4 separate regions of the Homo sapiens genome follow, and regions 2, 3 and 4 are each reported to be linked to region 1. Evidence: microRNA targets listed by miRTarBase, many of them from high-throughput screens and not tested one by one. Region 1 holds a microRNA gene; each other region holds the end of a gene's coding sequence.

What was found. Region 1 holds the annotated microRNA hsa-miR-4324 (CCCUGAGACCCUAACCUUAA, at 824-843, shown strand). A microRNA usually pairs through its seed, bases 2 to 8, with sites in the 3' UTR of a target mRNA and lowers its output. Matches are read on the target gene's strand: a 7mer-m8 pairs with bases 2 to 8, a 7mer-A1 pairs with bases 2 to 7 and ends in A, and an 8mer does both.
Region 2: miRTarBase lists IMP4 as a target of hsa-miR-4324. Seed matches in the 3' UTR shown: 7mer-A1 at 599-605.
Region 3: miRTarBase lists SLC67A2 as a target of hsa-miR-4324. Seed matches in the 3' UTR shown: 7mer-m8 at 92-98.
Region 4: the mRNA of METTL21A is a reported target of hsa-miR-4324. Seed matches in the 3' UTR shown: 7mer-m8 at 492-498.

The regions. Positions count from the first base shown.
Region 1 is chr19:49,306,480-49,309,649 of GRCh38, reverse strand. MIR4324 (microRNA 4324) reads left to right here and starts at 782; the gene lies at 782-853. It overlaps SLC6A16 (solute carrier family 6 member 16), which reads left to right. Exons shown (of 12, transcript NM_014037.3): 6 at 239-349; 7 at 533-774.
Region 2 is chr2:130,345,907-130,349,076 of GRCh38, forward strand. It overlaps IMP4 (IMP U3 small nucleolar ribonucleoprotein 4), which reads left to right. Exons shown (of 9, transcript NM_033416.3): 6 at 1-27; 7 at 112-206; 8 at 295-368; 9 at 450-2,061. The coding sequence ends at 562. Among named protein-coding and RNA genes, the nearest start is that of IMP4, 4.6 kb to the left of the region's middle.
Region 3 is chr2:102,715,773-102,718,772 of GRCh38, forward strand. SLC67A2 (solute carrier family 67 member 2) reads right to left here. Exons shown (of 6, transcript NM_032718.5): 6 at 1-3,000. The coding sequence ends at 2,648. Among named protein-coding and RNA genes, the nearest start is that of SLC67A2, 20 kb to the right of the region's middle.
Region 4 is chr2:207,610,253-207,613,422 of GRCh38, reverse strand. METTL21A (methyltransferase 21A, HSPA lysine) reads left to right here. Exons shown (of 4, transcript NM_001127395.5): 4 at 1-684. The coding sequence ends at 377. Among named protein-coding and RNA genes, the nearest start is that of METTL21A, 14 kb to the left of the region's middle.

The DNA.
Region 1 (3,170 bases):
TGAGCCACCAGTATTGGATTCCTTGAAATTCTCAGATGCTTTAGCCCTTACCTCAATTTGTTACTTGTTGATCTCCTAATCTCTTACTCCTTTGGCTTTTACTCCCCTAGCCCCTGACTCTTGCTGAAGGCTTTCTTCTAACTCCTACTCATTTCTGACTCAGAACTTTTGATCCCTCCTAACTGTTGGTTGACCCCTACTGGTACACGGTTGCTGATATGTCCCACTCTCGATTCAGGTAATCTATGTCTTGGTACTGCTCCCCTGTTTCATCATTGTCGGTTTCTTCATCCGGACTCTACTCCTGGAAGGGGCAAAATTTGGCCTTCAACAGTTGGTGGTTGCCAAGGTGAAATCTATCTCCTCACTCCCCCGTCAGGCCTTGTAGGGCACCACAGCTGCCTATTCTTAGAGCTTCCTTTCCCCATTCTTTACTTTTGTATCTCCCTCTCTCCTCCCTGCAACATTTCTATTATAGTTGTCCTCTGCTTCTTCTTTTACAACCCCCTTATGCTTGTCTTCTCTCTTTTAGATATCGGATGTGTACAATATGAGTGTGTGGTCTCTAGCAGGGGGTCAAGTTTTGTCTAACACAGGCATAGGCCTTGGCTCCGTTGCCTCCTTAGCCTCCTACATGCCCCAGTCCAACAACTGTCTCAGTGATGCCTTTCTCGTGTCTGTGATAAACCTGCTCACTTTGTTGGTTTTCACATCTTTCAACTTCTGTGTCCTGGGCTTCTGGGCGACAGTCATCACACATCGCTGCTGTGAGAGGTAAGGCCGGCCCCTTTGTTAAGGGTCTCAGCTCCAGGGAACTTTAAAACCCTGAGACCCTAACCTTAAAGGTGCTGCAAAGACCCATGTTCACACATTTCAACCTTGGGTGCACTTGCAAGCCCTCTACCTTCCCCATAGCTAAAAATGGAGACAATAGAATCTCCTATCATATATTATCCTTCTCAGAGCCTTTTGTCACCCTAGAAATAAATCTTCAAACTCAGAGATTGCCAGCTATCCACCTCAGAGTGGATATGCTAACAGGGATGTACTAAAAATTGCAAACATTGAAGGCTTCTCTAATCCCAGATACACAACAAAATACCATCCAAGACCATACCACACAGAGACTTCCAAGGCCATCCTTGGAAAAATGGAGAAGTAGAAGGCCCCCATTATTTTATTTTATTTTTATTTTTTGAGATGGAGTCTCGCTCTTTCACCCAGGCTGGAGTGCAGTGGCGCGAACTTGGCTCACTGCAAGCTCTGCCTCCTGGGTTCAAGCCATTCTCCTGCCTCAGCCTCCTGAGTAGCTGGGACTACAGGTGCCCATCACCAGGCCCGGCTAATTTTTTTGTATTTTTAGTAAAGACAGGGTTTCACCATGTTAGCCAGGATGGTCTCGATCTCCCGACCTCATAATCCGCCCGCCTCAGCCTCCCAAAGTGCTGCGATTACAGGCGTGAGCCACCGCGCCCTAAGGCCCCCATTCTTAACTGTTAACTCCTGAATTGGGGATTTCTGTCAATCTAGCAGAAACTCCAAAAGGATTCTCTGTACTAGAACCTTGATTGTCTGATCACCCCTGTTTCTTATTTTTCTTATTTTTAGGCATTAATTCCAAAAACATCCATCAGACAGACATTTAGGAAGTGTTCTTTCTATACAACAGAGACTTGGACAGGTGAATCAGACCACAGTCCTTGTTTCATTAAGTTTTCAATTTTGGAGGGGGAAGGAAAGGAGAATGAGACAGCCAAAAACTTGTGCTAACTGGTAACTGAAGTGATGGGTGAGGACAGGAGACAGAGCCATTAATTCTGTCTGGACTAGTCAGATGGGGCCTTCCAGAGGAGGCAACCCTGAGTTGAATTTCTCCCAGTAATCTTTTTTTTTTCTTTTTCTTTTTTTTCTTTTTCTTTTTTTTTGCTTCCTCCTCCTCTTCCTCTCTCTCCCAGCAGATTTTTTTTTTTTAATTTAAATTTTTGAGAACAGGGTCCCACTATATTGCTCAGGCAGGTCTTGAACTCCTGGGCTCAAGCCATCCTCCTGCCTCTGCCTCCCAAAGAGCTGGGATTACAGGCGTGAGCCACCGCGCCCGACCTCTCCTAGTAACCCTAACCCTCACAAATAACCACCATTTTCTTCTAGAAGATGCCTGGGAATATACATGTGTGCGTGTGCAAGAGTTCTTGACAGCATATAGTTAGGAAAGGAATTGCTGAGTAGGGTGTGCTCCCCTTCAATTTTATCATATATTGTCTGGTTTTCAAAGTGGCGTAATGCATTGCCCTCCCATCAGGGATGTGTGAGACTTCCATTTGTTCTACTTTTTGCACAACACTTGATTAAACTTGGTTGGACTTTTAAATTGTTTCCAGTCTGGTGGGAGTGTAATGGTAGTTTTTTTGTGTATTTTCAAAAAAACCTTTTATTATGAGCTATTACCTACATATGGAAAAATGCATAAAACAAGGCCGGGAGCAGTGGCTCACGCCTGTAATGCCAGCTCTTAGGGAGGCTGAGGTGGGAGGATTGCTTGAACCCAGGAGTTTGAAATCAGCTGGGCGAGACCCTTCCTCTAACAAAAAAAAAAAAAAAGTGTATAAAACAATGCACTGTGTAACGAACCGTGAAGTAAACATCACCTGTATTAAGAACTAGAATAACCCTAGATGCTCTCTGTGTATCTTTTTCTAATCATAATCTCTTTACTGCCTCCCAGAGGTAACCATCATAAAAGTCAGGATAGTGGTTACTATATTGCTTAGTAGATACGCATACATAGATGATCAAATGTAAAGAAAAACAAGCCGGGTGCGGTGGCTCATGCCTATAATCCCAGCACTTTGGGAGGCTGAGGCAGATGGATCACGAGGTCAGGAGTTTGAGACCAGCCTGGCCAATATGGTGAAACCCCATCTCTACTAACAAATACAAAAATTAGCCGGGCGTGGTGGCACACACCTGTAGTCCCAGCTACTCAGGAGGCCAAAGCAGGAGAATTGCTTGAACCTGGGAGGTGGAGGCTGCAGTGAGCTGAGATTGTGCCACTGCATTCCACCTGGGCAACAGAGTGAGACTCTCTCTCAAAAAAAAAAAAAAGAAAAAAAAAAAACAAAGAACTAAGGATAGTGATTAATGTTTTTCTTTATATTCTATCATCTATGTAT
Region 2 (3,170 bases), not on the chromosome of region 1:
GGCTTCTCCTCCCGCCTGGGCAAGCGGGTGAGTCTGGGGGCCTTCAGGCTGGGGCTGCGGGCCAGGCCAGGCATTTGCCACTCTGTTTCCCTCTCTTTCCTTGTGCCCCAGGTCTCTGACATCCTCCGATACCTATTTCCCGTGCCCAAAGATGACAGCCACCGGGTCATCACCTTCGCAAACCAGGACGACTACATATCATTCCGGTGGGTCCACGGGCCATGCCCCAGGAAAGCATCCCCACCCTGTGTACCTCGTGCTGCTTGCCGTTGACCCACAGCTGTTCCCTCCCAGGCACCATGTGTATAAGAAGACAGACCACCGCAACGTGGAGCTCACTGAGGTCGGGCCCCGCTTTGAGCTGAAGCGTGAGTTTGAGGCTGAATCCCGTGTCTGGGGTGGGGAGGGGAGGCTGGCTGTGCCGGGGCTGATGCCATCCCTGCCTGCAGTGTACATGATCCGTCTGGGCACGCTGGAGCAGGAGGCCACAGCAGACGTGGAGTGGCGCTGGCACCCTTACACCAATACCGCACGCAAGAGAGTCTTCCTGAGCACCGAGTGAGCACACTCACCACTCAGTCAGGACATGGACTTGGAACTCAGGATGGGGCTGTCATAGACAGACCCACCAGTAGGAACTGTCACAGAATGGCCTGCTGAACTGGGATGTGGAACTGTGGCGGGTGGAGAGGTCTGAATAAACCGTCTGTGTCATGGCCCCGCCTGCCTCTGAGTGGTCAGGCCAAGTCTGCAGGGCAAAGCCCATGGGATCCCTTTGGGTGGGGACCTGATGGCTGTGGGACGTGCTTGGGCCTGGAGTCAGTGTGGGGGTTAACAGAGAGAGAGATTTGATGCTAACGTCCCCTCAAGAGTGAGGGTCATATGAGCTCTTCAGCAGGCAGATGTGGGTAGCAGGGCCAGCCTGTGTCAGGGGCAGCCCACCAAGTTAACTCACTGAGTGGAAGCCGCCAGTGTGCCAACGCGGAGGGGACAGGCCACACCCAGTGCTCAGCAGCTGATTCCTCATGTAAGTGGCATCATGTGGTATTTGTTTTGTGTCTGGCTTATTTCTATTAACATAATGTTCTCCAGGTTCCTCCATGTTATTGCAAATGATAGGATTTCTTTCCTTGTAAAAAATAACATGCCACATTTTCTTACCAATCCGTCCACCAATAGACACTTAGGTCGTTTTCATAGTTTGGCAGTTGTGGAAATGCTGCAGTAAACATGGGAGTATAGCTATCTTTTGAAGATAATGATTTCATCTCTTTTTTATATGTATACCCAGAAGTGGGATTGCTGCATCAAATGGTGGTTCTATTTTTAATTTTTTGAGGAACCGCCATACTGTTTTCCATAAAGGCTGTACTAATTTCCATTCTCACCAACAGTTCACTAGGGTTCCCTTTTCTCCACATTGTTGCCAACATTCTTTATCTTGTGTTTTTTAATAACAGCTATCCTAACAGGTATGAGGTGATCTCTCTCATTGCGGTTTTGATTTGCATTTCCCTAACGGTTGGTGATACTGAGCATTTTTGCATACACCGGGTCATTTGTTCTTTGTTGTTGACTTGAGTCCCTTATATAGTTTGGATACTGCTGTGGCCTGAATGTTTGTGTCCCCCAAAAATTCGTATATTGAACTCTCATCCCTAAGGTCAACAGTTTAGGGAAGCGATTAGGTCCTGAGGACTCTGCCCTCTTGCATAGAATTAGTGCTCTTATAAAAGATGCCCGAGGGAGCTCTTTTGCCCCTCCTGCCATGTGAGGACACAGCTAGAAGCTACCATCTGTGAACCAGGAAGCCCCCCTCACCAGACACTGAATCTGCTGGAGCCACCATCTTGGACTTCCCAGCCTCCAGAGCTGTGAGAAATAAATGCCTGTTGTTTAAGCTACCCAGTCTGTGGTATTTTGTTAGAACAGCCCAAGTTGAGACAGATAGTAACCCTTTACCAGATACATGGTTTGCAAATAGTTTTTCCCACTCTGTAGATATAGCCATTGAGAAGCTCCTCAAGATAGACATTAAATACAAAGAAGCATGGTGTGAAACGCCATGTGTGATATGCTGTCAGTGTGCAAAAGAGGCAGGGAGGGCCCTGCACTTGCATGTATGTGCTGCATCATCCCCAGAAGGCTGAACTCCTTGCTGGTGCACTGGGTACCCAGGGAGGAGGGAGGTTCTTTACTGTAATGTTAGCAGGTGAACATTGTATCCACTTGACCACGAAGAACTGCCCTCTTGAGTTCTCTGCCCATTTTTTGGGGGGGTACAGGCGGACACTTGGAAGACATCCTTATGATAAAAAAGCATACAGAAGGCCTGGTGCAGTCACTCACACCTGTAATAATCCCAGCGCTTTGGGAGGTCAAGGCAAGGAGGTTCACTTGAAGTCAGGAGTTTGAGACCAGCCTGGGCAATACAGGGAGAGCTCATCTCTACAAAACATTTTTAAAAACACACACAAGTGCACATGGTGAAAAGTAAACCATCATCCTCCTTCCACCCCAAAGAACCCATCCCTAGTCTCCAGAGGTCATCAGTATTGACTTTTTAAAGAAGCTGGACTGATATCTTTTATTCATGGTATCCATAAGTTTGTTGACTGTTAATTATATTTTAACCTGAAAGGGATCATGTTGTGCACACTACTCTGAACCTTGCATCTTACCCTTTAATGACAAATGGATGCCACAGGGCTCCAAGGCTGTCTAGTACACATGGATCTGCCTCCTTCCTTGTGGCTACATTGTTGGGTGGCTTCCTGTTTTTACCCCCACAAATACTGCTTCGAGAGCATCATTGAACATACTTCTGTGCATATTTATGCAAGTGTATCTGATGCATACATCCCTACAAGAGGAATTCGGGCGTGGTGGCTCACACCTGTAATCCCAGCACTTCGGGAGGCTGAGGCGGGCGGATCACCTGAGGTCCGGAATTCAAGACCAGCCTGGCCAACATAGTGAAACCCCATCTCTACTAAAAATACAAAAAATTGACCTGGCATGGTGGCGGGTGCCTGTAATCCCAGCAGCTCAGGAGGCTGAGGCAGGAGAATCGCTTGAACCCGGGAAGTAGAGGTTGCAGTGAGCCAAGATCACGCCATTGCACTCCAGCCTGGGCAACAAGAGCAAGACTCCGTCTCAATAAAAAGAAA
Region 3 (3,000 bases), not on the chromosome of region 1:
CAACCTGACACACTGGAAAGGGCTACAGAAGTTACTCAAGAGAATTTAAAAAATGAAACACCACAAATGTCAATTGAGCAGATTTAATTTCCCTGAGATTATATTCCATAAGTGATACAAATACTACCCCTTAGACCAGGGGTTTTCAAAGTTTGCTGTGCAAAAAATCAGCTAGGTATCTTATTAAAATGGTCCCCAACATGTCTGAGCTGGAGCTTCAGTGTTCACAGGTCTCAGGTGATGCTGATGCTACTGGTCTCTGGGTCACACTTTAAAGAGGAAGACATTAGATAAAGTAAAAGGAGTCATGAGAAAAGGTGCACCTAAAAAACATCACATAACAAAATACTAAAGTCACTAGTGGAGAATAACAAACATGTCTCTCTACTCTATATTCTAAGATCAGTCTTTGGTTTTCTATATTTCCATGTGTCTGATTATAAAGACTCATTAAGTTTATGGGCTTTTTAAACTTCAAAAATAAAGTGCTACGATTTTTAAAATAAAAACACGACTATAAGGGCTTTTAAGAAACTTGCCTGTTTCTGAGAGTGAAGGACAATCTTTGAGATCCAAACTCTTCTGAAATTCTATTTCATTGCATAAACCCTCGATTATTTATTGCCTTTTGAGTCTAATCTCCATGAGATTTAATTTGCTCCTTAAGGGCAAGGCCATTTTATATATTAATAATAGTTTGGTCTCCTCGAAAGCACTTAACATTTACATAAAAGTTCACAATTGTAAAACCTAATCAGAAGTCCATTTTTCCTTGCAGCAAGATAGGAAAAAGGACAATCTTCAAACTAAAACATACTTCCAATTATTTATCATAAATATTTGATTTTACTCCATGACTTCTAAAATACAGAAATGTTTACTGCTTTACAAACAATAAATATTAAAGATATGACAAATTACTGTAGCATACTAAAATATTTACAAGTATGCATGTGTTAAGTTGAAAACAGGCATACCATCCTAGTGGACTAATTAAGAAAAGTAAAAGGAATGTGAACTTCAACTGTCTGACAGGAAGCCCTTAAGTAACTGATTAATACTTGATGCAATCCCAATGGTCATCCTGCCTGGCATATGTCTCCCTGCAAGGCTATGTTCACCTTCTGTCTGGGCCTCTGCCTCTCGTGGCCCCCTCGGTGCTGTATATGAAACTTGTTTAGACAAGAAATGGCACATCAAAATATTTCCGTTGATCAACAGAATGCTTGTGTTTGCAGGCGTGAAACTAAAAATAAAGGAAATGATTCTTTTTTTTTTGAGACGGAGTCTCACTCTGTCGCCCAGGCTGGAGAGCAGTGGCACAATCTTGGCTCACCGCAAGCTCCGCCTCCCAGGTTCACGCCATTCTACCTCAGCCTCCCGAATAGCTGGGACTGCAGGCGCCCGCCATCACGCCCGGCTAATTTTTTTTTTGTATTTTTAGTAGAGACGGGGTTTCACCATGTTAGCCAGAATGGTCTCCATCTCCTGACCAAGTGATTCACCTGCCTCAGCCTCCCAAAGTGCTGGGATTACAGGCCTGAGCCACCGAGCCTGGCCAGGAAATGATTCTTAACACAAGACACAGTAGCATCAAGTTCTGGTCTGGCATGACTCCTGACCCTTATTCTGCATAAACTGTTCATTTTTAAAGCATTCCTGTGCTTTGGCTTCACCACTGGGTTCTGTCAGCACCAGAAGGATGCAACCTGACTGGAATGCAGGCTTCCAGGAGCAGGCTGTGGCAACCCCAGCATCTAAGTGGTTTAGTCCAACTTCAGAGCAAGCTGGGCTCTCAGAGGCAGGGAGCACAGGGAACAGGTCCCAGGGGCCCGCTGCTCCATCATGCAGTACAACTGCTGAGAGCTGGGAAAGGTGTAACACACTGTGATTACAAACACAATTTTAAGAGTCCAAATTTAGTTAGCTGTGTAAAAACAGCCAAGCCTATGTACTTTAATCAAAATCAGTGCAGTCTCAGTGTGGTCTTTACTGCCATGAGAAATCGCCAGCAGTGCTTACAAAACACCACGGATTTCTTGGCCCCACCCAGGCCCACTGAATCATCTCTAGGGGTGAGGTCAGTATCTTATTTTTAAGCAGCTTTGAAAAGCGACAGGCTGGTTCTAATAAACCAGCTTCTTCAATCTGCAGGATTTTGATAGAAAACTCCCTCCTAGTGTATGGAATTTAACTGGAAACTCAAGTTCCAGTTGATCAGAATTTGACTGACATGTCACCCTATTTTTCAGTAGGAAAATGCTTGTGGTTTCTTCCCTTCCTCCAGGTATCATGTTCTCTTATTCCACCACCACTTCCCTATCCTGTAGCTGGTAGTTTGTTTACCCTTGAAAATTGTAACCTGATTAGCCCAGGTGGGAAGAAGAGACTTCCAGGTAAACGCTGAATATGCTCACCTTGGAAAAGCTTTGCTCCAGTCTTAACCTTCCCATGAGGTGCCGTGACTTCTGATCATCCTGCAGGCATGGCTGCATGGCCAAGAGCTGACCTGGAAGCCCAACAGCTCACACCCACCCGGAAATATTTCCCTTCCACCCCAACCCTTTCCAAAGTGCCCTTTTCATCATGGCCTCCGGCCCTCATTCAACCATCTCAAATTTTGTTGCTTTATGTTGTCCAAATCCATCTACTCACTTTTTAATTTACTATTCCCATCACCACTAGAGTGTCGCTTGTTTAGAGACATTATGAAAATGGCCACTAAGGCTAACACAGCGCCCAGGCTGGGGGGGCCGCAAGGGCTGACCTCCTGGGCAACCCCCGAGAGGAGAGGGGCGATGATGCGGCCCACTGCAGTCACAGACTGCCCCACGCCAATAAGGGTGCCGCTGGCCTGGGCCCCGCCCACAGTCAGCTGGAGGTCCGTGATGCACGTCCTGCCAATGGCAGTGGAGAAGGACAGGAGAGTGGAGGAGAGGACAACTGCACCCATGGTGGGGGCCAAGGAGTAGAGCAGCAGCAGTGTGCAGGTGAGTATGC
Region 4 (3,170 bases), not on the chromosome of region 1:
ATCGAAAAGTAGCATTAGAATTTCTTAAATCAAACGTTCAAGCCAACTTACCTCCTCATATCCAAACTAAAACTGTTGTTAAGGAGCTGACTTGGGGACAAAATTTGGGGAGTTTTTCTCCTGGAGAATTTGACCTGATACTTGGTGCTGATATCATATATTTAGAAGAAACATTCACAGATCTTCTTCAGACACTGGAACATCTCTGTAGCAATCACTCTGTGATTCTTTTAGCATGCCGAATTCGCTATGAACGGGATAACAACTTCTTAGCAATGCTGGAGAGGCAATTTACTGTGAGAAAGGTTCACTACGATCCTGAAAAAGATGTACATATTTACGAAGCACAGAAGAGAAACCAGAAGGAGGACTTATAATTGGCTATAATTTATAAGAATGTTGTCATTGAGTGTGTCACTTAAGGTCTTAGACTGCAAATCTAACCATATTTAATGAAATGTCTTACTGTACAAAAAGTCTAAGCCAAAGGTTCTCAGGGGAGAAAGCACATGTGCAGTTTTAAAACAAAGCAGTGCTTTGTCCCATTGCTGTGATTTTTAGTCAGACTTTACTCAGTCTGAAATGCAATTAACATTAAAGGATTAAGTGTGAGATTTCGATTTATGCTATTTGTGTATCCCATACTCCTCCCTTTTAATAAACAGTTTCCACTGATGATATGAAGGGCCGGTATAAAGAAGTCTTTAAATGAGTAAGCTTTCTTGGTAAGATTAAATCTTACAAATTATTTTTAAAACCTTGTGATATATACAATGTTTAGCTGAGTTTTCTAATTTTCTGGATGTAAAACAAAAGGTTTAACCTATACATTCCTTGAGCTGTTAGTGCTATTTAAATCTTTTGCCCTGTTTAGGTCCTAAACACTTTTAGTTGAGTAGGATATGAGCTTTTTTGGGTCTCATATCATGCTTTTTGCCTTAATTTCAGGTATATATATATATATAAATAAAGGAATTAAGTAAAAATAAAATTTCAGTTACTTTTTAAAAGCACCTGAAATCTGGCCGGATGCGGTGGCTCATGCCTGTAATCCCACCACTTTGGGAGGCCGAGGCGGGCAGATCACCTGAGGTCAGGAGTTCAAGACCAGCCTGGCCAACATGGTGAAACCCCATCTCTACTAAAAATACAAAAATTAGCCGGGCGTGGTGTCAGGCGCCTGTAATCCCAGCTACTCAGGAGGCTGAGGCAGGAGAATCGCTTGAACCTGGGAGGCAGAGGTTGCAGTGAGCTGAGATTGCACCATTGTACTCCAGCCTGGGGGACAAGAGCGAGACTCCATCTCAAAAAAAAAAAAAAAAAAAAAAAAAAAAAGCACCTGAAATCTTGAATAGGTTTTCTTTTTTTTTTTTTTTTTTTAATTAATTTATTTTTTTTTTATTGATCATTCTTGGGTGTTTCTCGCAGAGGGGGATTTGGCAGGGTCATAGGACAATAGTGGAGGGAAGGTCAGCAGATAAACAAGTGAACAAAGGTCTCTGGTTTTCCTAGGCAGAGGACCCTGCGGCCTTGGCCTTCCGCAGTGTTTGTGTCCCTGGGTACTTAAGATTAGGGAGTGGTGATGACTCTTAACGAGCATGCTGCCTTCAAGCATCTGTTTAACAAAGCACATCTTGCACCGCCCTTAATCCATTTAACCCTGAGTGGACACAGCACATGTTTCAGAGAGCACAGGGTTGGGGATAAGGTCACAGATCAACAGGATCCCAAGGCAGAAGAATTTTTCTTAGTACAGAACAAAATGAAAAGTCTCCCATGTCTACTTCTATCCACACAGACCCGGCAACCATCCGATTTCTCAATTTTTTCCCCACCCTTCCCGCCTTTCTATTCCACAAAACCGCCATTGTCATCGTGGCCCATCCCCAATGAGCCGCTGGGCACACCTCCCAGACGGGGTCGTGGCCGGGCAGAGGGGCTCCTCACTTCCCAGTAGGGGCGGCCGGGCAGAAGCGCCCCTCACCTCCCGGATGGGGCGGCTGGCCGGGCGGGGGGCTGACCCCCCCACCACCCTCCCGGACGGGGCGGCTGGCCAGGCAGAGGGGCTCCTCACTTCCCAGTAGGGACGGCCGGGCAGACGCGCCCCTCACCTCCTGGATAGGGCGGCTGGCTGGGCGGGGGGCTGTCCCCCCCACCTCCCTCCCGGACGGGGCGGCTGGCCGGGCAGAGGGGTCCTCACTTCCCAGTAGGGGCGGCCGGGCAGAGGCGCCCCTCACCTCCCGGACGGGGCGGCCGGCCGGAAGGGGGGCTGACCCCCCCCACCTCCCTCCCGGACCGGGCGGCTGGCCGACCCCCCCCCCCCCCCCCGCCTCCCTCCCGGACGGGGCGGCTGGCCGGGCAGAGGGGCTCCTCACTTTCCAGTAGGGGCGGCCGGGCAGAGGCGCCCCTCACCTCCCGGACGGGGCGACTGGCCAGGCGGGGGGCTGACCCCCCCACCTCCCTCCCGGATGGGGCAGCTGGCCAGGTGGGAGGATGACCCCCCCACCTCCCTCCCGGGCGGGGCGGCTGGCCGGGCAGAGGGGCTCCTCACTTCCCAGTAGGGGCGGCCGGGCAGAGGCGCCCCTCACCTCCCGGATGGGGCGGCTGGCCAGGCGGGGGGCTGATCCCCCCACCTCCCTCCCGGACGGGGCGGCTGGCCAGGCAGAGGGGCTCCTCACTTCCCAGTAGGGGCGGCCGGGCAGAGGAGCCCCTCACCTCCCGGACGGGGCGGCTGGCCGGGCGGGGGGCTGACCCCCCCCACCTCCCTCCCGGACGGGGTGGCTGCTGGGCGGAGACGCTCCTCACTTCCCAGACGGGGTGGTTGCCGGACGGAGGGGCTCCTCACTTCTCAGACGGGGCGGTTGCCAGGCAGAGGGTTTCCTCACTTCTCAGACGGAGCGGCCGGGCAGAGACGCTCCCCACCTCCCAGACAGGGCTGCGGCCCAGCAGAGGCGCTCCTCACATCCCAGACAGGGCGGCGGGGCAGAGGTGCTCCCCACATCTCAGACGATGGGCGGCCGGGCAGAGACGCTCCTCACTTCCTAGATGGGATGGCGGCGGGGAAGAGGCGCTCCTCGCTTCCCAGATGGGATGGCGGCCGGGCAGAGACGCTCCTCACTTTCCAGACTGGGCAGCCAGGCAGAGGGGCTCCTCACATCCCAGACGATGGG